3 linked regions of the Homo sapiens genome follow. The protein of the gene in region 2 purifies or fractionates together with the protein of the main gene of each other region. This does not show direct contact. Each region holds a gene or a part of one and is shown on either strand. Other genes may lie near its edges.

What was found.
Region 1: the proteins of PLXDC2 (region 2) and VMA22 purify together in Homo sapiens (affinity purification with mass spectrometry; 2 studies listed by BioGRID and IntAct, with this or other methods). This does not show direct contact.
Region 3: the proteins of PLXDC2 (region 2) and UFSP2 purify together in Homo sapiens (co-immunoprecipitation; 3 studies listed by BioGRID and IntAct, with this or other methods). This does not show direct contact.

Annotation. Positions count from the first base shown.
Region 1 is NC_000002.12:130,338,797-130,346,910, forward strand, and holds the start of VMA22 (vacuolar ATPase assembly protein VMA22), read right to left. Parts: upstream 3,338-8,114; 5' UTR 3,330-3,337; coding exon 3,219-3,329; intron 3,149-3,218; coding exon 3,045-3,148; intron 2,954-3,044; coding exon 2,871-2,953; intron 2,244-2,870; coding exon 2,112-2,243; intron 967-2,111; exon of another isoform or gene 764-966; intron 437-763; coding exon 324-436; 3' UTR 1-323. Other genes in the region: U3 small nucleolar ribonucleoprotein protein IMP4, read left to right, coding at 4,137-4,139, 4,290-4,398, 5,833-5,916, 6,580-6,689, 6,771-6,903, 6,983-7,316, 7,405-7,478, 7,560-7,672. UniProt on the Homo sapiens protein: Accessory component of the proton-transporting vacuolar (V)-ATPase protein pump involved in intracellular iron homeostasis.
Region 2 is NC_000010.11:20,281,000-20,288,735, reverse strand, and holds part of PLXDC2 (plexin domain-containing protein 2 isoform 1 precursor), read right to left. Parts: 3' UTR 1-7,736. UniProt on the Homo sapiens protein: May play a role in tumor angiogenesis.
Region 3 is NC_000004.12:185,408,597-185,415,964, forward strand, and holds part of UFSP2 (ufm1-specific protease 2), read right to left. Parts: intron 7,272-7,368; coding exon 7,114-7,271; intron 6,752-7,113; coding exon 6,559-6,751; intron 5,277-6,558; coding exon 5,130-5,276; intron 3,818-5,129; exon of another isoform or gene 1-3,817. UniProt on the Homo sapiens protein: Thiol-dependent isopeptidase that specifically cleaves UFM1, a ubiquitin-like modifier protein, from conjugated proteins, such as CD274/PD-L1, CYB5R3, DDRGK1, MRE11, RPL26/uL24, TRIP4 and RPL26/uL24.

The DNA.
Region 1 (8,114 bases), on a different chromosome or scaffold from region 2:
GTTCCATCATCCAGCCATGAAAGCACAGCTGAGTGATCCAAGAGGCAGTTCCAATTGTTGACTAACGTGTACCTGCCTATGTGAGTGTGTCCTATGGGAACTCAGGCCTTAGAATGGTTTCAAAGTAGTGGCTTTCAAAATTACTGTTTGCCTCTTCAAACTTCACACCTAAGGAAAATGGAAACATGCAGAGCAGGGACACAGAAGGGGCATTAGCTGGCGTGGGGTAGGGGCAAGAGCTAATTGTGAAGGAAGAAGGCCTGAGATCACGTAGCCATGTCGGAGAACAGCTGTGCTCGCTGCCCTGCCTCTTTGCGCGCATGTCAGGCAGCCCCAGGCTCCAGCTGCTTGAGTTTCTCTTGGAGTCCCCGGAGCTGGCTTCGACCCCAGTCAATGCGGTTCTGGAGGCTGGCTATGTCTGCGGCCAGCTGCAGGCCTGGAGGAAAGGAGAGAAGGTCACCATGGTATCTGTAGTGTAACACACGACCCAGGAGGATCTGGATATCCCCAGAAATTGGAAAGGCTTCAGGCCTCTCTGCCCCCCACACTTGTCCCAAAACATTCCAGGTACGGCCCTGCATTGGCTGCTCCAGAACCTCTGAGGCCTTACACCTCCTTCAGGTCTTTGCTAAAATGTCACCTCCTTAGACTTCCTGGACCCATTATATCACCCACCAGGAACTAAAAATTCACAGATAGTAATACCATTTCATGCCCTCATTTCCTTCCTTCCCCCATTATTACAGCATCTCTCTGCCCTCACCTGCTCTCCCTCCACTTCTTTTCTCTGTTAGTCCACACTCTGGATCCACCTCTAGATGGCTTTTGCTGATGTCTCTGCTGGAACAGCTGCTGCCCAGTCCTCCGGGCAGCTCTCGTCTTCGGCCTCCTGTTCAGCAGCAGGGCTGACCACACATTGGATCACTCGCTCCAGGAAACACTTTCTCTTCTTGGCCTCCAGGACACCTGCCCCCAGGTGTTGCTCCTCAGTTTCCTTGACTGGCTTCTCCCCTCTTCTCCCTCACCTCCCGTCCATACTCCCCAGGCCCTCTGCTGATCTCATCCTATCTCAGCTTTAAACCAGTGTTTGTGTCAAAAACTTTGGAATTTAAACACCAGTGCTATGCAGTGGACTCCCAAATCTCTCTCCAGCCCAGGCCTCTCCCAAACTCCAGATACATGTGCCCAAGTGCCCACTCAGACTCTCCAGCAGGGCGTCGGTGGATACCACACAGACCACACCAACTCCTGCCTTCTGGAATCCTCTCAGCTGCCCACAGCAGGTGAGGGTCGCTCCATCCTCCCAGGGGTTCTGGGTGGAGACCGCAGGCTCTCCTGGACTCCTTTCCTTCCCTTACTCCCATATCTTATCTGTCAGCAAATTCTGGGGCTTCTATTCTTAAAACCTGTGCAGGTTCCCACCACTTACCTCCTCCTCCAGTGACGCTATCTGCTTCTCACACTGGCTGCTCCCTGACACCTACTTCCTCCCTCTGCTCTGTGTCCCCGCCCAGCACCCAAGCATTCCTGTGACCCTGTACAGCCAGTTGCACCATCCTCTGCTCAGAGCCTCTCTGTGGGTCCCACAGTCTTCATCAGGGCTTACATCACCTGACTCCACTCTAGGCCACCGGCCTCGGCACATACCAGATATATCTGGCTTCAGGGCTTTTGTCCTGGCTGGTTCCTCCATCTAGAGCACTGTTCCCCAAAATCACCCACAAAGCTTTTCCTTCACCTCCTCAGAGAGACCTCCCCTGGCCCACTCCTGTCCCACTCCATTATGTGTTTTTCATAACAATTTTCACAGCCTGACTTATGTTAAGGGCCTACTTATTTGCACGTTGCCTTTGTCTGCTTCTAAACATTACATGAAAAGTGTTTGTCTCTTTTGTTCCCTGCTGTATCCCCAGCAGCTAGCATGAACCCGAATGCTGCCAACAACCAGTAAATGCTTTTGGAAAAAATAATGGGTGTACAACGGAAGTTTGGATGGAGGAAAACCTGCAAAGCCTTTCACAGACTAACCCCAGCCATGGCAGCAGTGCTCAAGTGTTCCCTGTGGATAGAGGGTCTGAGGGCCACAGAGCCAAACAACACGGTCCACTCACCATCCCGGAAGCTTGCTTGAGCCTGACGTAGACTGTGAGGAACTAGGATTCCAAACCAGTTCAGGGGGTCCTGAGGGGCCTCAGAGGACTCCGGTTCTGGGGTCTTAGTGGGGCCCTTGCGCCTCCGCAGACCTGAGGAAAGAAAGGTTGGAGGAGGCTGGGATCTTACTCCCTGACCTTTATCATCTTGGTGACAATGTTGAGCTTGATCTGAGCTCATGATTCTATAAAACACTGTTGGTTGGAAAATTCCAACTTTGGGGTTCCAGGAAACAGCTTACCACAAAACACAGCCTTTCCCCTTGTGATTCAGATGAGACTGTTTGTCCACTCTTTCCCGTGACTCCTGTAAGACCCACTGATGACCCTGTTTGCCTGTGACACTGATCTTACCCATTGTACCTGAACATGCCAACAGACCAGACATAGACGTTCCAACTCCCCATTCTTTGTCTCAGGATGATTAACTGGGATTAGAAGTTTGTCCCTCTGAAACTAGCTAGACACACAGATAAATATTTTCTGTTCAGCTGACTGAAATGTATGTGATTGTAAATCTATTCCCAGTGTAAAGCAACTCACCAACAATTTCTCTACTTCCTATAAAAGTCTAAGGCAAAACCACCCTACAAAAACATTCTGTTCTTCTGCTCTGGGATGCTCTCTCTTATCGCAAAAACCTAATTTAAATCATCTCCATAATTTGCATTTTGTCTTTGACACTGGGAAGGGGTTCTGCAGAAGGAAGAGGGGGCTCACCTGCTTCGCGAGGCCCCACCTCCTCTGGGGCGTGGACACCAGCTCTCACCACCTTGAACTTCTGGAGTCCCTCCTGGGCCTCGCTGAAGGACGAGAAGGGAGGATGGAGCTTTGGCAGCCCGGGCCTAGAACGCGCCCGCCCGCCCACCCAGCCCAGCATGGAAGCTTCCTCACCTGGCGTGGAGGCAGACCTGGGGCTCCATGTGGGAAGCATACTGCAGGGGCCCTACCGACTTGGCGCCCATCGCGTAGCGAGCCTTGGCGAGCGAGAGCCAGCCCTGCAGGGAGAGGAAAGCGGTGAGACTCAGTTTACGCCCGTGTACCCTCCTGCCCGCCCCAGGCGCCTACCTCCTCCACCCGGGCGTTCAACACCGTTCGTTTCCCCTCCAGCTCCTCCAGGTCCCCAAGCAGCTGCAGGACCAGCGAATCCAGCTCCGCTCGCAGGTCAAGCGCCGCCATGGACACACCTCCAGATCTGGAGCCACCTTCTTCCTTGTCACCCTCCGCAGTTTGGCAGGACAGCCAATAGGCACACGAGATCCTCCATCAAGGGGCGTTCCCATCTGGGGATCCCCACGCCGGCAGCACCAAGGCCTCTGGGTCAGCTTCTTTAAGGGCAAGCGCCCTTAGAGAAGCAGCACGGAAGCAACCAATCAACTGGTTTCTCCAATTAGCCCCCAAGTGGATCAGCCTGCTGAACTGTCGGCTAGGGTTATAGGTGGTTCTGAGTCCTTCCGGAAGCTGCCGAATCTTAGAAGTCGCGCCACTGTTGTGGCGATGGAAGAAGGCGAAGCTCTACAGAAACCATTTTGGTTGAGGGAAGAGTGGTTTTAAAGTTAATTTGGAAAGGAGCCGGCAAGCAACCTTCAGTCGGTGTGCGGTTTTTACAGTTGAACTGTTTCCAGCCGCTAATTATGATTGTTTTAGCGGTTCGTCATCTGAAAACTGCATTCTGCACGGCGGTGGTGGGGGGAGGACGAGGATGGAGAAGCCTGGGCGGACATATTTATTAGCTGCGGTCCTAAGTCACGTGTGACATTCTGTATCCAGTCTATCGGTTATCCCAAGGAGAACGCCCTGCCGGAATGGCCAATCGCCTTGAGATGTCCCCGCCCTATTCGCCATCTTAACATAGGGCATTCCCCACAGCTGCAGGCACCAGTGAAGCGTCTAAGGGACCATCTTGGTTGAGGGCGGAAGTGAGGACTGTGTCGCGCTGGAGGAGCCCACAGATTCTCCCGGACCCACGTGGAAGCGGCACTCAAGATGGTAGGAGAATGAGCTCCTGTTTCGGAGGTCCGGGGCGCGTGAAGTGCTGGGGATGTGGCTCTGGGGACTTGGAGGCTCAGCGGCTCCGGGGCTCCGGGGTTCCGGGGCTCGGGAGCGAGTAGTGAGTGACTGGGCCTGCTGTTCCCACAGCTGCGCCGCGAGGCCCGCCTGCGCCGCGAGTACCTGTACCGCAAGGCCCGGGAGGAGGCGCAGCGCTCAGCCCAGGAGAGGAAGGAGCGGCTGCGGCGCGCGCTGGAAGGTAAGGCATCGGCCCCGCGGGCGTCTGCGTGGTAAACCACCCCGGCACGCATTTGTGTTCGAATATCCGAGCGTCTTTCCAAATGCTTGCCGGCCGTTTTCCTTGCCCATTGGGTTCTCCTGTTGGTTTTGAGAGTGTTTCTTCCGTGTGATGGTATTAATTACTTGTCACTGACGTTGCAGTACCCGGGTTTTGCAGCTTGCCCGCTGTGTGCAGTGTGTCAAGTTCGTCCCAAGTTTTAAAGACTTTATCTTGTCCTGTAGAAATTCTCTTTAGAGCGGTGGCTCACTGCTGTAATCCCAGCACTTTGGGAGGCCGAGGCGGGCGGATCATGAGGTCAGGAGTTCGAGCCTGACCAACATGGTGAAATCTCGTCTCTACTAAACATACAAAAATTAGCCGGCCGTGGTGGCACGCGCCTGTAATCCCAGCTACTCAGGAGGCTGAGGCAGGAGAATCGCTTGAACCCGGGAGGCGGAGGTTGCAGTGAGCCGAGATCCTGCCACTGCACTCCAGCCTGGGCAAAAAAGCAAGACTCCGTCTCAAAAAAAAAAAAAAAAAGAAATTCTCTCTAAAGACTATCTGGATAGCGCTGGTGCTGCAGACTGCGCTGCCCATCCTCCCTGCAGGAGTTCCTCTGAGCTCCGTGGGGAACAGTGCTGGCCCCGAGTGCGCACCTGGAGCGCTGTGCTCTGCGGTAGGCAGCCTGTGGTCCAGGGCCCGCTGAAGCCATGCCTTCGAAGCGCTGTGGGCATCGTGACCAACGGTTTTGCTGTCTGAGAGCTTAAAGGTCTCTGGTCCACCATCATACGTACAGAACAGTCTATATTTCTTTTCAAAAGTAATTTTTAAGGCCGAGCGCTGTGGCTCACGCCTGTAATCCCAGCACTTTGGGAGGCCGAAGCGGGTGGATCACGAGGTCAGGAGATCGAGACCATCCTGGCTAACACGGTGAAACCCCGTCTCTACTAAAAATATAAAAAATTAGCCGGGCGCCGTGGCGGGCTCCTGTAGTCCCAGCTACTCGCCAGCCTGAGGCAGGAGAATGGCGTGAACCCAGGAAGCGGAGCTTGCAGTGAGCCGAGATGGCACCACTGCACTGCTCTGCCTGGGTGACAGAGCGAGACTCCGTCTCAAAAAAAAAAAAAATCGATGTTTAGATTTCTACCTGATTATAAAAGCAATACAGTACATTAAGATATTTTAGAAAGTCCTCAAGTCATGAGACTAAAGAAAATGAAGTCCTAGTAACCACTGTTTATGGGGGTTGGCCTGTAGAAAGTTTTGTCACCTCTATCCATGCTTTATCCAAGCTCAGAAAGGGCTGAGGTATTTTTATTTCAAGCATGTGCAGGCTAATAAGCTGTGGTGTATTGGATGAGCTGAGGTCTCCATGCTTGTGACTCACTCAGCCCCTCTCTCTTCCCTCTGCAGAAAACCGCCTGATTCCCACTGAGTTACGCCGAGAGGCTCTGGCCTTACAGGGGTCCCTGGAGTTTGATGATGCTGGAGGTGAAGGTAACTATACAAGGTAGCCCTCCCCAACACTGAGCTGGCAGGTCTCCAGTCCTTCCTCAGACACACCGGGCACCATCCCATCAGAGGAAACTGCTCCTGGAACTGTCCCCCATGCCCTTGTCACTGCACAGATGGCATTGCAGGGCTCTCCCTGAGTGTGCCCTGTCCCACTTACATGGCACACATGGGAGTGCCTCACTGACTCTGCACCTGGCTTGTTAATTACCTCCCCCACTGGAGTGCCTGCTGGGGAAAGACAGTGTCCCTCACACATTATTGGTGCCCATACGTTTATTCACTGCATTATTCAAGAAACAAGAAAGGAATCCCAAACATTATAGATATTTGTTACGAGGGAAAAGAGTTTGTCACCGTTGGCCTTAGCAGAGTGTGGATTTCGTTGTGTAATGGAGTAGCTGCTTAGCCCCATGTGACTAATATAGCTTAAGCAAACTACAATTAAACAAAAGATTCTGTTTCTCAGCCACGCTTGTGCTCAGCAGCCAGAGTAGTTGGAGGCTGCCCTCTTGCCCGGTGTGCATGTGGAGCATTCCTATTGTTGAAGGCTTCGGCAGACAGCGACATCCAGGCGGTCTTGGCTGCCCCGAAGTTAGCATTTCATTCCCAAGACTGTCATGTTCTTGCCCCTCGTGCTCCTGACAGGTGTGACCAGCCACGTGGATGATGAATACCGATGGGCAGGAGTCGAGGATCCCAAGGTTATGATCACTACCTCCCGAGACCCCAGTTCCCGCCTCAAGATGTTTGCAAAGGTACTGGTGAGCAGGGAGTGAGGGAGAGACACCCAGGACACACAGCCCCAGTCCTGACTGTACACTGCCATCCACGCCCAGGAGCTGAAGCTGGTGTTCCCGGGCGCCCAGCGAATGAACCGAGGTCGACATGAAGTGGGGGCACTGGTGCGAGCCTGCAAAGCCAACGGCGTCACCGATCTGCTGGTCGTTCACGAGCATCGGGGCACACCTGGTAAGGCCGGAGGGAGGGAGTCGGGGTGGGAGCCGTCTGAGGGCAGACGGGGTCTCTGACAGCCACCTTTCCCCGCCAGTGGGGCTCATCGTCAGCCACCTGCCCTTTGGTCCTACTGCCTACTTCACGCTGTGCAATGTGGTCATGCGGCATGACATCCCAGACCTGGGCACCATGTCGGAGGCCAAGCCCCACCTCATCACACACGGCTTCTCCTCCCGCCTGGGCAAGCGGGTGAGTCTGGGGGCCTTCAGGCTGGGGCTGCGGGCCAGGCCAGGCATTTGCCACTCTGTTTCCCTCTCTTTCCTTGTGCCCCAGGTCTCTGACATCCTCCGATACCTATTTCCCGTGCCCAAAGATGACAGCCACCGGGTCATCACCTTCGCAAACCAGGACGACTACATATCATTCCGGTGGGTCCACGGGCCATGCCCCAGGAAAGCATCCCCACCCTGTGTACCTCGTGCTGCTTGCCGTTGACCCACAGCTGTTCCCTCCCAGGCACCATGTGTATAAGAAGACAGACCACCGCAACGTGGAGCTCACTGAGGTCGGGCCCCGCTTTGAGCTGAAGCGTGAGTTTGAGGCTGAATCCCGTGTCTGGGGTGGGGAGGGGAGGCTGGCTGTGCCGGGGCTGATGCCATCCCTGCCTGCAGTGTACATGATCCGTCTGGGCACGCTGGAGCAGGAGGCCACAGCAGACGTGGAGTGGCGCTGGCACCCTTACACCAATACCGCACGCAAGAGAGTCTTCCTGAGCACCGAGTGAGCACACTCACCACTCAGTCAGGACATGGACTTGGAACTCAGGATGGGGCTGTCATAGACAGACCCACCAGTAGGAACTGTCACAGAATGGCCTGCTGAACTGGGATGTGGAACTGTGGCGGGTGGAGAGGTCTGAATAAACCGTCTGTGTCATGGCCCCGCCTGCCTCTGAGTGGTCAGGCCAAGTCTGCAGGGCAAAGCCCATGGGATCCCTTTGGGTGGGGACCTGATGGCTGTGGGACGTGCTTGGGCCTGGAGTCAGTGTGGGGGTTAACAGAGAGAGAGATTTGATGCTAACGTCCCCTCAAGAGTGAGGGTCATATGAGCTCTTCAGCAGGCAGATGTGGGTAGCAGGGCCAGCCTGTGTCAGGGGCAGCCCACCAAGTTAACTCACTGAGTGGAAGCCGCCAGTGTGCCAACGCGGAGGGGACAGGCCACACCCA
Region 2 (7,736 bases):
CAGAGAAACTTGGTTTAAGAAGCTGTGTGAAGAAAACATTAATGACTTATTGCAATTGTAATAATCCCCAGGTAAAAGATGGATGTCAAATTAATGGACTGTAAGGAAATACATTCAAACTTAGGTCATTAATATTACAGTGAACATAATCAGGAAGCTTGCAGAAGTATGTAGCATCTCTGAATTATTGAATTTGAACAAAGGTTTCCAATAGAGGTCACACTCTTTTTGCTCTCAGACACCATTAGTGCAGATTCAGATACAATCATTTTTACATTTGCAGGCTCAGGTACGTTCAACAGAAGGTCACCGAGAAGTATGGGCTGGTTATTTTAGCATGACAGAATGCAGGCTTGGAATTTCTCCTTGACATGGCAGAAGAAATAGGAATGATGCCCAGAGGACTGGAATAAATTCAAAATGCTTGGTTTTCCAAGTTCTATTTTAATAAACTTCGGAAAATTAACCTTTCCCTGAAAGACACGTCCTTGGTTTGGCACACAGGGCTTTCCAAAACAGTGAGAAACGAACTGGCCATGTGCTGCACTCACACACATAGTCATTCTTTTTGCTTGGGGTTGACTAGGTTCATAGGGCCAGATTTTCCTCAGTGTCCTCTTGTAGCAGTGCCGCAGTGAGCTTTGTGATTCTGACAAAGGGTGCCATTATATCCACTTTGAAATGCATTACAAATATTCTGCATGCTGGTGCAACTGGCATAAAATCTGGAAAGCCACCGCCCCCCCCCCCTCCCCCGCCGCAAGAAGTGCCCAATTTCTTCTCTTTTCACACTTCAACATTTCAAATGACTACACACAGAATTACCAGAAACAGTAGTAAATTCCTGGCATTCGAAGTTCCCATGATCCCAGCTGGCATATAAAAAAGACTCTCTCCTTTTTTTCCCCTGAAAATAATGTACTCTCCAGGCACTGTTGAAATGCTTCAAATCAGGCAAATGAGAGATTTGTTTTGACCAATCAATGAAAAGACTTCCCCCTCTTCTCCGTGAGGGCCCCAAGACTGGGTTACGCCATACACAAGATGTCTGTTTCTAAAGAGACTTCACTGATTTCCCTAAAATGATTTTAACATTTCTTTGCAAGTGAAGCTCTGATGTTGCCTAATGTTATTTTCAGAGTAGCCTGCTGCAGGATGCCTAATTTGAGTTTTTATTTCCCTGCTATAAATGTGACAATCTGAGTATGTTTTCATTCAAACCACCTTGAACATGGTGGCTGAGGCTTCACCACAAATGTCCAGAAAATAGCACTGGAGTCTGTCTGAGTCCTGAGATGGTCAAATCTCAGAGAAATCCAGCTCTGGGCCCGGAAAGGAAAGTGCCATCTCTTAACCTTTCCTCAGGAAAATTATTTTATTGATTTTTTTGCCTTATTTTCATGCCTTTTAAGTCAAAGGAAGATAAATGGAAAGTCTCTTTTTGGTCATTCACTAATTCTCTAGGGCAAGTCACATAATTCTCTAGGACAAAGGCCTCCATGATGTTAGGATGAATGCCATAGAAGAGGTATGGGGGGTGATGGCTGCATTTTAGACTAATCATAGGCATATCCTTTGCTTTCTCTATGTCAGGGGTCTCAGCATTGCTTGCAGAATATGTGCCCCAGTGTCTGGATGTCTGAATGACCTAAATTTGAGCTGGTCATCAATGAGTATTTATTAGCACATTGCTCTTAAGAAGTTAATAACTCGGCCAGGCACGGTGGCTCAGGCCTGTAATTCCAGCACTTTGGGAGGCGGAGGTGGGCGGATCACCTGAGGTCGGGAGCTGGGGACCAGCCTGACCAGCATGGAGAAACCCCGTCTCTACTAAAAATACAAAATTAGCCGGCTGTAGTGGCATATGCCTGTAATCCCAGCTACTTGGGCGGCTGAGGCAGGAGAATCGCTTGAACCTGGGAGGCGGAGGTTGCAGTGAGACGAGATCACGCCATTGCACTCCAGCCTGGGTAACAAGAGCAAAACCCCATCTCAAACAACAACTAAAAGAAGTTAATAACTCTGCCTAATAGCACATTTAGATTTTTATTTTTTTTTCCATGAATCATCTCCATTCACTCACTCTTAGGTTTATACTTTCCCCTAAAATTCCCCCATGAAACTTCTAAAATTAGTTTCATGCTATGTATTTGTTTGATAGGCACAGAAGGTTTACAGCTGCATGGTCAGTAAGCGATACTTTGGTCATGAATGTATATATACATATATATTTGCAATGCTGAGAAAAAGAGAGACTGCTGTTAAAAATCAAAATTCTCGTGGAATGAAGAGAAGCCACTGAGATTTTTTTCAACCAGAATGAAAATAAATAAAATATCACTATCTGCCAAATCAAAAGCTTTTATGTTATTCCATTATGAAAGACATTTATTGAGTAATTTGCAAATGTTAATAAGCCTTAGAAACTAGGAAAAGCTGAGTACTAGTTTATGACTTACATTTAATTTTTTTTCCAGCCTTTTATCCTGGGTTTAAAGTAACACAGAATCTTTCAGTGTCAACAGTGAGCTGGAAATTAACCTATAATAACAAGTTTTGAGCATTTTGCTCCTCCAGGCAAAATTTGGTCACTCATAATAAATATATTATGAAGAAGCCAATGATGATGTATTCCATAAACTTGTTATGAAAAACTGACTCCAGAAATTATGTGACTTTACTTGAATAATTACCATTTTACTTCTCTACAATAATCATTGTGAGAGCAGTGGGCATTGGATGGTTGAAAAGTTATTCCAGACAATAATTAGGCAGATGTATTACAATTTAAGTTGAGGCTAGATCAACTTAATCAAAACCTTAAGAAGTAATACCATGTTATGATATGACAATGGTAGAACAGGAAATTATAGACACATTTGAGGCTGGAGTTTTCTGATTTCCCTGATTGTCTTATGTCTGGGATGGTCTAATAAATGACATAACCACCACACACACCTAAAGTGCAAATGCTTTTTTGATACACTGGTGTTTCTGAATACCTCAAAACAGTGATATTAATAATTCAAAACCCAATAGAAATATTGGGTCGAGAAATCAAACTTCAACTGTTGCATCTGGTCAGTAAGACTGCAGTGAACTAGAAAGTATTCTTAGGTCAGGGAGAATTTTGAGTAACTTTTTTTCTCACAGATAAAATTAACAGGTCTACAGCACAGACATGCAGTGATATATTATGTTTCAGACACATTCTTCAGGCAAACAGTTTCTAGTTCCCATTTTAAGTAGAATAGAAAATTGGAGTTGAAAATTGATAGAGTATTGTTGATCCTATCTACTTGTAAAGTCTGGTTTAGGGATGTTATTGTATTATAATGATCGGTTACATGCCTGGACTCTCACTACTGTATATCACAAGTTACTAGCACAGTCACTTGGTTCCAGTAGGTGTTCAATAAATATTTCAGTGAACTGAACAGTTAAATAAATGAACAAATAGGGAGATGAATCAAAGTGCTCTGTAAAATGTAAAATGCTTCACAAACATAAGGTAATAGGAGTATATAAAAGGTAACACCACAGACCTCGCATTATCTGCCCAAAAAACCTTATAAGGACAAAAATGTTGTAATAGTTTGAAGAGCAAATAAAAATTGCAATTATATATGTGGTCAGAAAATCAGCTATATAGATCATTCATTTTCAAATATATTTGGGAAGAAATAAAACAAAGGCAGAAAAATTTTAAATGGCCAAAATAAATTGTATTGCTAACTTAGATGGCCACAGATGGGGGCAGGGGTGGAGAGAGGAGAAATTGAAAACACCACAAAGACCCCGCAATGGCTAGAACTTGAAATCTCTGGATATTGCAACAATAGCAGCCTCCTTAAGTCAGCAAAAAGATAAAGATTGATCCAATGTTCTATATTACAGAACAGAGCAGATTGTCAATATAGCAAATAAAGTTACCGTTGAGTGGACTGCGCTGTCTAAGCTGCTTGGTTGGCCTTAAGTGCCGACAATTAAGAGATGAAGGCAATGAGAACTGAAACAAACATTTAAGTTCAAGACCCAGTTTACTGACACTGGGACTATTACTATATCTCTTTGGGCCTCAGTTTACTTATCTGTAACATTAAGAGGTTGGATTACATGATGTCTCACGATTCTTTTTTTTTATTTAGAGATGGGGTTTTGCTCTGTTGCCCAGGCTGGAGTGCAGTGGCATGATCATAGCTCACAGCAGCCTCTAACTCATGGGCTCAAGCAACTCTTACACTTCAGCCTCCAAAGTAGCTGGGACTACAGGCATGAGAAACCACACTTGGCTAACACACACACACACACACACACACACACACACATAATTGCTATCATCTCTATCAAATATACATATATATTTGATATATATGTATATTTGTGTGTGTGTGTGTGTGTGTGTATATATATATATATATATGTATATTTGATAGAGATGGGTCTCACTATGTTGTCCAGGCTGGATCTGCCATGACTCTGGCATATGACGCTGATAACAAAAGTGGGGTTGGAGGTCGTGAAGTAAAAGCAGCAGTAACTTGGAAAATACCTAAAGAAATACAAACCAAAAGAACATTTCACAGGAGGAAGAAATTAGAACCAGATAATCTAGTTTTCAATTAGTCTTATTTAAATATTAATTTCCTATCATAAACGAAAGCATCTTGAAGCGATCTGTGGATCCTGGCAAAACCTTTCTCAAGTGGGCAATAGACACTAGGGACGTGATCAAATTTATACTCCCTCATGAAGATGTAACATAAGAATCTGTTGCGAAAAACTGATAAATGATACTAACCTTAGAATATGTATCTGGATATTAGCATAATTTAAAATAATTTTATTCCCTTTATATAGTCTGCATGTGCAAAGGTTTACATTAAGTTCCAAATAGTTTTATATTTTAATGCCATAGCTCCTTAGTGTTACAGTGATAAAATAAATATGAAATTATTTATGTTTGAGATAGTGCCTTCTAAATGGAAGCCTCCTTTTGCTGTTAAGTGTAAAATAGGAAATCATAAGAAACTAGAGAAGCTAAGTGGCTCTATGCAATAAAGAACTGAGCCAGTTGAAGGATGTTCATAGGCAATGTTGTGAAAGAGTGGATAAATACATGGGATGGATGTCATGTGGGACAAATACTAAAGGAAATATTCAGATGGGCAGAAAAGAAACTGAAGCAATTTTGCTTTGTGTTTTGAATGCATTCTCTTTTTCTCAAGATACGTGATGAACTGATTACCTTTGAACGCTTTTTGCACTGATGAACTATTCTTCCTTTGAATGCAAATTTGTGCTGGTACTCGACCAAAAGTCGTACTTTATATGGGTTACATTAACATAAGGTTTTTAAGAGTCTGCACATCTGTACATTTAATCAGGTTGCATAATAATCTTGCAAGAAAGACAGGACAAAAATTGTTTTTCTTTTCCAAAATTGCAAATTGAGACTCAAGGAGGTTGAAGTGATTTTCCCAAGATAACACAGTGGGGATTTAAAGCTGTGTCAGCTTGTATTTTTTTCATTACTCCATAGGGCCTCTCTAAAATCAAAAATGCTTGGATATGCCCAAGAGCTACCAAATCTTGTTTCTTTCCTCTTCTTCCCTTTTCTTCAAGGACAACGAATTCAAATGAAACACAGCATTGTCCATTAAAATTTTCTTCAACCACGGAAGTGTTTCTTGTTATCCAATATGGTAGCCACAAGCCAGGCGTGGCTATTGAGCCTTTGAAATGTGGCTGGTGTGACTGAAGAATTACATTTTTAATTTAATTTTAATTAATTTTAATTTCAAAAGCCACGTTGGCTAGTGGATATAATATTGGACAGCACAACTCTAGAAGCTACATATAAGAGATTGGCAAATGCCCTTGATACCTCAAACTAAAATAGTAATTGGGGGTCAATTGCACTTTTAGTTTTCTAGGTGTTAGTATATCTTGAAGTCCAAACCCTTCACACACAAGCCACCATTTATGGTCAGTGCCATCTCTTGGGCTTAAGCCATTTATGCCTGAGGTTGCAATTTTTTGAATTTTTGCAACCAGACCTTGGTGATGACCTTGAGCAGTAGGCTCTAAATAACTCCCATAAGCTTAGCGTTCCAATAATGGAACACTAGACATAAATGGGTCAAGATATTTTTCTTGAGTTTCAGTATCTTTACCTAGTCACTGATTATTATTTTTACAAATAATTAAGCTGAAATAACTAAATTCCTCTGTAGCACCATTTATCTGATTTATCCAGAAGTTTGCATCTCTTTGTTATCTTTTTTTGTTATTCTATTATGTTCATAGTATATTAAGTAATGTACAGTTGCACCTTCTCTAATACATAATTATGTAAAGTCCAAAGCATTGATGACCATTTTGAATTTTCAGAAACTGTATGTTTTCTCACATGGGAACAAGAACAAACCAGAAATATAAAATAGAATGAGAGTTTCATGAAAGAAAAGGATTTAGCCCACATTTCCCCTTACCACTAAAGAATTCACACACCACACACTTCTCACTACCTTTAACTCTTAGTTCTGTTAAGAAGTTTTCCCACACTCCAGTTTCAAGAAGTTTTCTCTATTATTTGTTGCTTTGGTTCACTGAAGAATTCAGTGTTTATGTTTTTTTACAGAATTATCAATTGTTTTGAATCAAAATAGAAAATTGATTCAAAATTGTTTTGAATCAATTGTTTTGAATCAAAATAGAACGCTGAAGGGTATAAGAATAACATTACTACTTGAGAATTAAGTAGTACTTAAGGGACACAAACTAAGAATACACATGCAAGATTTATATAACTGTCAAACAGTTGCTATTGGAAGCCACAGCTACCACAAAAGGTAGTGAAAGAAGCATCATTTTATCCTAAAAGGAAGTCGTCTATGTGTTCCTTATGCATTTGTAGAATACCAGTTGCACCAGTAATATTGGCATGTCATTTGGTTATTGCTGTCTCACCAAACCTGCTCCACAAGAATAAGTGGGGATACTTCACATAAACCATACATAGCTGCTGCAAAGAGATTGTCATCACAATCCTTCAATCACCTTGCTTTTCAAAATTTTTTTTAATAGTTAACTAAGTTAGGAAAAAGTTACCATCTTCATCAAATACTTAAAATTGTAAAGCAAAATATATGGAATAGAAAATGGCATTCGTTCACGTCAGACACTTGTGATGATAAAGTATGGTACTCTGTGAGTGGACTGATGACCAAGGCAGATGTGTACAGATGCTAAACTGTTGGGAAAATGCTGCTTATGAGACATCTCTGCTTCTTGAGACCTGAATCTGCAAATGTTGAGCACTGTACCTTACAAAAGCCAACAGTTTCTTGGCACAGAGTGTAAAAGTTTCATGGGTTAGAATGTTGGTGAAATTGTACACTCAGTACCTGAATTTAAACTTTAGGAGCTCAGTATGTATATTAACCACTTTCCTTCTCAAGGGATGCCATTCCTTTCTTCATTCATGAGGAATTTTCAAAATCAGGATTGTGATTCCAAGGCAATCGATATCTCCATTTAAGGAGCTTTCTGCATCCACTTTATTTAGCCAGAGAGGGAAGGGGTTGACATAAACGAAAAAGTGGATCAAATAGTCAAGAACATGATGGGCGCGGCAATGAACTGAACCACTTTTGCTAAGTGACAGAAAAATATTCTAATATTAAGGATTATTTTACAACTCTATGGAAGTAATGCAGTGATGCATCTTGCAT
Region 3 (7,368 bases), on a different chromosome or scaffold from region 2:
GGCTTTTTATTTGAGGTTCAAAGTCCTTACCACAGGGCCCAGCAGGACCTACCTTCTGGCCTCCTCTCCAATTTCATCTCCTAAACTTTTCCCTATTGCTCCCTCTACTTTCGGTTCCCATATACCAGGGGCAATATGACCTTGGAGCCTCATGGTTCTCTTGGCCTGGAACTCTCTTTTCCCAAATTAATTGTACAGCTTGCACTCTTACTTCACTCAGGTTTCCATTTAGATGTCAAAGGTCTTCCTTGACCATCCAGTCTACAAACGGCCCACTCATTCTCTCACTACCCCACCCCCTGCCTCACCTGTCATCTCTGTCCTCTTTATGTTTTTATTTTTCAAAGTATATCATGACTTGATATACTTTAAATGATACATTACTTATCATTTAAAAAATATCTGCCTACTTACACTAATATGTGAGCTCAGTGAGTACATACACTGTGTCTTATCCATTTTTGGGCCCAAGCTTCTACAACACGCCTGGCACACGGTTAATATAAATGCTGCTGAATAAATGCTGAATGAATGAAGGAAGGAATAAAGGAATGAACAAACAAATGAAGGGTCCATATCATGGGACACAGGAAGAATGTGTCTAAATTTATAAACCTGCTATGATTACAGCCCAAGTATGTTATTTGATGACGCTAAGTTAAGGGTCAAAAAATAAAGATAAATAAATTACTAATATCATATAAATTCTTACTTATAGTGCTAAGAATGTATATGTCTTTTTTTATTAAAGAACTGGGTTTTTGTTTTTATTTTTTTGAGATTGGGTCACACTATGTTGCTCAGGTTGGTCTTGAACTTCTAGGCTCAAGTGATCCTCCTGCCTCAGCCTCCTGAGTAGCTGGGATTACAGTTGCACACCACCATGCCTGGCTCCAAACTGATGATATTTTTAAAAAATTAAGTGAGAGGAGATAGGGACAAGATAGAACCAACCCTCACCCAACAATTAGAGAATATATATTCTGCCCAAGCACAGATAGAAAAATTTATAACTTGACCATTGTGACAGGCTGAAAAGTGGCTCCCAAAAGGTATGTATGTCCTAATCCCTGGAACTTGTGAATGCACCCTCTGTGCCAAAAAGTAAAAGAAAAAAGGAAAGCAAAGGTATTCATAGACGTGATTAAGGATCTTAAGATGGGGAGGTTATCCTGGATCCTAGTGTGCCCTAAATGCAATCACATATATTCTTAAAAGAGAGGGGCATAGGAGGAGAAGGTAATGTGACTGAGGAGGCAGAGATCGGAATGATGGGGCCACAAACCAAAGGATGCTGGCAGCCATCAGATTAAGGAATGGATTCTCCCCAAGAGCCTATGGAGGGAAGGTGGTCCTGCTGACATTGTGATGTCAGCCCAGTGATACTACTTTCAGAACTCCAGAACTGAGACAATACATTTTTGTAGTTTTAAGCCATCAAATATGTTATTATTTTTTAGGGAACAAATACAAGTTTCAATAAATTTCAGAGTTAGTTTCACTTAGAATTCTTTCTGACCAGGAGGCAAGAGTCAGAAACCAGTTAAAACAAGAAGAAAAAAAAAGCAAAAAAGAAAAATAAATTCTGACATATTTGGACATTAACAAACACTTCTAAATAATACATGGACAAAAGAAAAACCATAATAGAAAAATATAAAAATACTTAGAAGTGAACAAAACTAAAATCCTTCAAATTAAACCTATAAGATACACTAAAAGCAGTGCTTTGCTTGAAATTTAAAAGCTTACATTAGAAAATAAGAAAGCTGTCCAGGCACGGTGGCTCATGCCTGTAATCCCAGCACTTTGGGAGGCCGAGTGGGTAGATCACCTAAAGTCAGGAGTTCGAGACCAGCCTGGCCAGCATGATGAAACCCTGTCTCTACTAAAAATACAAAAATTAGCCAGGCGTATGGCTATTGCCAGTAATCCTAGCTACTGGGGAGGCTGAGGCAGGAGAATTGCCTGAACCAGGGAGGCAGAGGTTGCAGTGAGCTGAGATCATGCCACTGCACTCTAGCCTGGGCAACCGAGCAAGACTCCATCTCAAAAAAAAGAAAGATTAGGCCGGGCGCAGTGGCTCACGCCTGTAATCCCAGCACTTTGGGAGGCTGAGGCAGGCAGATCACGAGGTCAGGAGTTTGAGACCAGCCTGGCCAATACGGTGAAACCCCATCTCTACTAAAAAATACAAAAATGAGCTAGGCGTGGTAGCACCCTCCTGTAATCCCAGCTACTTGGGAGGCTGAGGGAGGATAATCGCTGGAACCCAGGAGGCGGAGGTTGCAGTGAGCCAAGATTGTGCCACTGCACTCCAGCCTGGGCAACAGAGCAAGACTCCATCTCAAAAAAAAAAAAAAAGAAAGAAAGAAATATTAGCAATAAGCTAACATGTCCAACTTAAGAAGTTAGAAGAAAGACAATAAATCAAAGAAAGAGCAAAAAAAAAGAAAGTAAAGAGCAAAAATTAATAAAATCAAATACAGAAGTTATAATAGAGGGGGCCAACAAAGCCAAAAGTTTTTTTTTTTTTAAAAGACACAAGGCATAAAAATGATATGAAGAATGAAAAAGAAAATATTATGACTACAAGATATATTAAAACCTAGGTAAATAACTTATAAAAATCAAAAAGTCCTAAAGCTGTTACCAAAACTAAATTGGTTACTAAAAATCTTCTCACAAAGAAAATGCTACGCCAAAATTGTTTTACAGGCAAGTTTTACCAAATGACCAAGGAAAGATCATACCACTCTTATATAAACTTCTCTAAAAAACTAAAAAAGGAACATTAACCTAACTAATTTAGTAAACCAGTATATCACTAATAAAAAAACAAAATAAGAACAGTATGAGAGAAGAAAATTATAAGCCAGTATCATTCACGAACATAGATGCAAAAATCGTAAAATATTAGCAAATGGAATCCAGAGGGGAATAAAAAATAATGAGTCATAACCAAACCGAGTTTATTTCATGAATGCACATCTATATTGTTGAGAGATTTGTGCCAAAGTATTTAAGGGTAAATAATATATCTATAATTTTCCTTGAAATGGTTCAGAGGGGGAAAAAAGAGGGAGAAATGAAGCAGATATAGCAAAATGTTAACAACTGTTGCACATATGTATCGAGAGGTATAGGAATGTTCATTGTCTAAACAGCAAAAAAACTTGGAAAAAATCATAAAGATAATTAACTATGGTTAGACAAAATACCAGAGATGTTTGATATGTAATATTGAGTGAAAAAGCAAGCTGCAGAGACTACGTACAGAATGATACCATATTTATAAAACTCAGAACTATGCAATACTAAAAGCGACATTGCTGAGATTGATATGTAACATATACGCTGAAACTACTTTTTAAAAAGGAAGGAAATGATGAACACAAAACCCATAATAGTTCCTCCTGGAACTGTGTCGAGGAGGCAGAGGAGTGGGTAGGGAAAGAGCACAGACTGGTAAAGTTTTGCTTCTTAAATTAGGGAGGAGCTCCCTGGTATTCATTTCCCCACTGTGCTTTACAATTTGCATATGTTATATGTACATATCAAATATTACATGATAAATATGTAAAGTATATATTTTTCTTACGACCTTGTAATACAGATATAATGAACCTATTTTATTGTCAAAAAGCAATCAGTACTCATTCAATACCTTCTGTGTGTCCAGGTTCTTCTAAGGAACTATTCTTTTTGTGAGGAACTTTCTATGGAAGCTGGTTGGCCCACAGCTTTTGCAGATGATCTGCTGCCCTGAGTACACTCTAATGACCAAGACCACAAGTGGGCCCCTAACTCATCTAGGGTACGTACTGTATCGTATATGCATTTTTTTAATTCTTAAGATTTCCTCAAAAGTCCTGGACGCTCAGAAGGTATTAATAAATGCCACCATACGATAGCCAAGTTTTCTTTCTCTTGGGAATCTGAACTGAGAGGTGCAGAGTTAGCCAGGCAGCCAGGAGCAGGAAATGCAGTTGGAATGAGGCATACACTGGGCAGCTGAGGAAGAACAGGAAAAAGTGACACACAAGCTGAAACAGTGAGGATACAGAGGGTATGAGGTGGAGCAGACAGAGTAAAAGTTAAGAACAGGCCAGTTAGGATCACAAGCATACACAGAAAGCAATAGCAATGCCACCAAGGTATCCACGGAGTCCTTGAGAGAGACTGAAGACACCTGCTAGTCACAGGGCTGCTGTTTCTAAGAGGCCCAGCTCTATTGGTATTCCTAATCTTGGATGCCTTATAAGGTCCTTTCTCACTGGCCTCCATGTATCCTTAAAGTAACCCTTCCACCACCCTCCGCCAATTCACTCTTATTTGAGCTACCTTTAGGGAGGATCTATCCCTGGCAACCGGGTATATGTTACATGGAAAATAAGTCTAGTTCCTCATTAGACTTATCCTACAGTGGCTGGGCATGGTGAATCATGCCTGTAATCCCAGCACTTTGGGAGGCCTACATGGCGGATCACTTGAGGTCAGGAGTTCACGACCAGCCTGGCCAACATGGTGAAATCCTGTCTCTACTAAAAATACAAAAACTAGCCAGGTGTGGTGGCAGGTGCCTGTAACCCTAGCTACTGGCCAACATGGTGAAACCCTGTCTCTACTAAAAATACAAAAATTAGCCAGGTGTGGTGGCAGGTGCCTGTAACCCCAGCTGCTCAGGAGACTGAGGCAGGAGAATTGCTTGAACCCAGGAGGCGGAGGTTGCAGTGAGCTGAGATCACACCATTGCACTACAGCCTGAGTGACAGAGCGAGACTCTGTCTCAAAAAAACAAAAAAAGATTTATCCTACAGTGTGGTTTGGGTAGACTATGCCCTTAATTAGCATGATTTCTCAGGTTCAGAATGAAAAAAAATGGGACAAGCCTTTAAAGAAATAAGAGAATTTTAGTAAGATAAATGTGGTATATCTACCTATTACTAACTTTTCTAGACCATTTTTAATTACTGCTATCTTAAGCAATGTCTGTTAACAGAGATGGGTGATAAATCATGTTTTAGGAATGAATACATAATGAATCAAGTCTCCTACTGGGTACCAACAAAAAACAACTAATAACATTACTGATCCAGTGACTCCCATAAATAATTAGTTAAACTCACCATACCAGTCTCCATGTTAGGTGGATTAAGGTAAGTATGTGGATTTCTAATGTAACCATCTTTGTATGGCTCATCTGGAAAGTGATAAGCATTAGACCTTTTGAAATAGGGTCTGTCGTGAGGCAGATTGAAAAGATCATGTAACTCCTAAAATAAATCAGAATCAACAGAAAAAGAAAAAATGTTGGTGATTTAGATTCCTAGTCAATAAATAAAGATGTTATTAAACATGGAAAATTATATATAGGTTATAAAAGTTTCCAAACACTTATGGTTTAATTCACTAACATCAAAGATGGTGAAAACTGAACTAAAACCAAGTAAGATTTATTTTCGTTTACGTCTGTATCTGGGTAGAAACTGGAAGGGAACAGAGAAAAATGAATATAAATTGTTAGAGTAAGAGAACTAATTTTTAAATAATTATTTATTACAACATAGTCTGTTAAAATACATCCAGGCTAAAGACTGGTTTTGAAATAGCCTTGTAAATGAGTAAATTATAATTAACAATAATTATATCAAAGTATTTTGCAAAATTGTGTCGAGTGCCTTACAAATATTTTATATTGTAAGTGGTAGTGATTAAACTACAGAGTAGAAGTTAGTGGTCTAAAGCCAACCAATATGGCAGGAAAACAAATACACATATATGTTTAAAATGTGTTATTTTCCCAACTATATAAAAACATGTAATAGGTATTTTAAAAAGTTTGACATGTTCTTTATCATATCTTGTACTCCAGTGGTTTTAAAAGATCAGCTCCTGTAGCTATTGCTTCTACAAACCAAGTCACCTCCACATACAGAGGGTCAGGGTATTCTCGCTCTCCCTAAGGACAGAAATTAGGAAGATGCTCCACGGTCTAATTTGATAGGTTCTAAGCGAGTCCACATATCAAAAAGATGCACTCCAAAACCAGTCATGAGTAAATCTCATTACTTTGAATGCTGGTCATGTTTTCTCCAAAATTCCTCTAATAAAGCCCAAATAACCTTACTTGTGGAGTATTACCATAAATCCTATTCAGAATTAGCATAAGTTATCATTTTCCTTCCCTAACTGTAATCTTGTCTCTTTCACAAATCGGAAAGTTATAGAAATCTGTTAATACCAGCAACTTTAGGCATGTAAGCACCATTTCTATATTTCATTATGGAAAAATATTAAAATTTCACAGAATATATGAACCACACCGAGCATTTAAAATTAAAATGTTACATATAGGTTCAACATAACATTTTGTCATTAATACTACTTAAAGTTTCATGAGAACAGAAATTAAATAATGTGTAAAATGAATAGTCTAAATTCCACACTTTTAAGTTAAATCACAAAATACCTTCCATTTAGTGGAAATATATAATTAAATACAAAATGAATGATAGTCATTATTGTTTTTTCTAAGAATAGATGAACTGGTTTTACCTTCCTATAGGCCTGCAGCTGGCCATCTGGTATTCCTGAAGGATATGAAATTGTTACAAGATTTTTTTTCCCTGGTAATAAAAAGTGCAGTGGTTCAGGGACCACAATAGATGTTCCTTTCATATATTTCAAAATACATTTTTCCATGTCAGTTAGTTGATTATGAATTGCATCAACCAGGAGTTTACGAACTCTGTGGGGGGAAATATATAAGTGTATTAACAAAAGTTATAGTGACTACAATAAAGAAAAGTACAGAGCTAATATATCCTTAGTATAGTAAAAAACTTGATTGGACCAGGTTTGCTAAAGGAAGTCTGAATTATACATTATAAAAGAAACTGTGTATTTGCTCTTTGTGGATAAAGGGAAATCCTCCAGGTTTTAGCATGCTACCCTACTTCCTCCAAATAACCATTTAATTAATAGATGGCTCTTAGGTTAATAATAAACAAGGAGAAAATCACACCTTAGGTATACCTACAGGATATACAAACATGGGTTTGGGGAAGGGCCCTCATTCAAATGTGGCAGTGGTACTATAAAAATACTTACTTTCCCCATGTTTCTTCTGGAGCAACAGATATAACTGCATCGACAGGTAAAGTCATATTAACATAATGGTGTCCTCCGCTTTCCCTTTCAATGATGGGCGTTACAGCTGCCAGGGAGGTTGACATTTCCAGCATAAGATCTATATTTACTATTTGATGCTATATAGATAAACAGTAATAGTCAACTTGTAGTGCATTAAACACTAAATATAAAGAGTAAGTAAAAAGACTTTTCAAAAATGTATTTATTATTAAG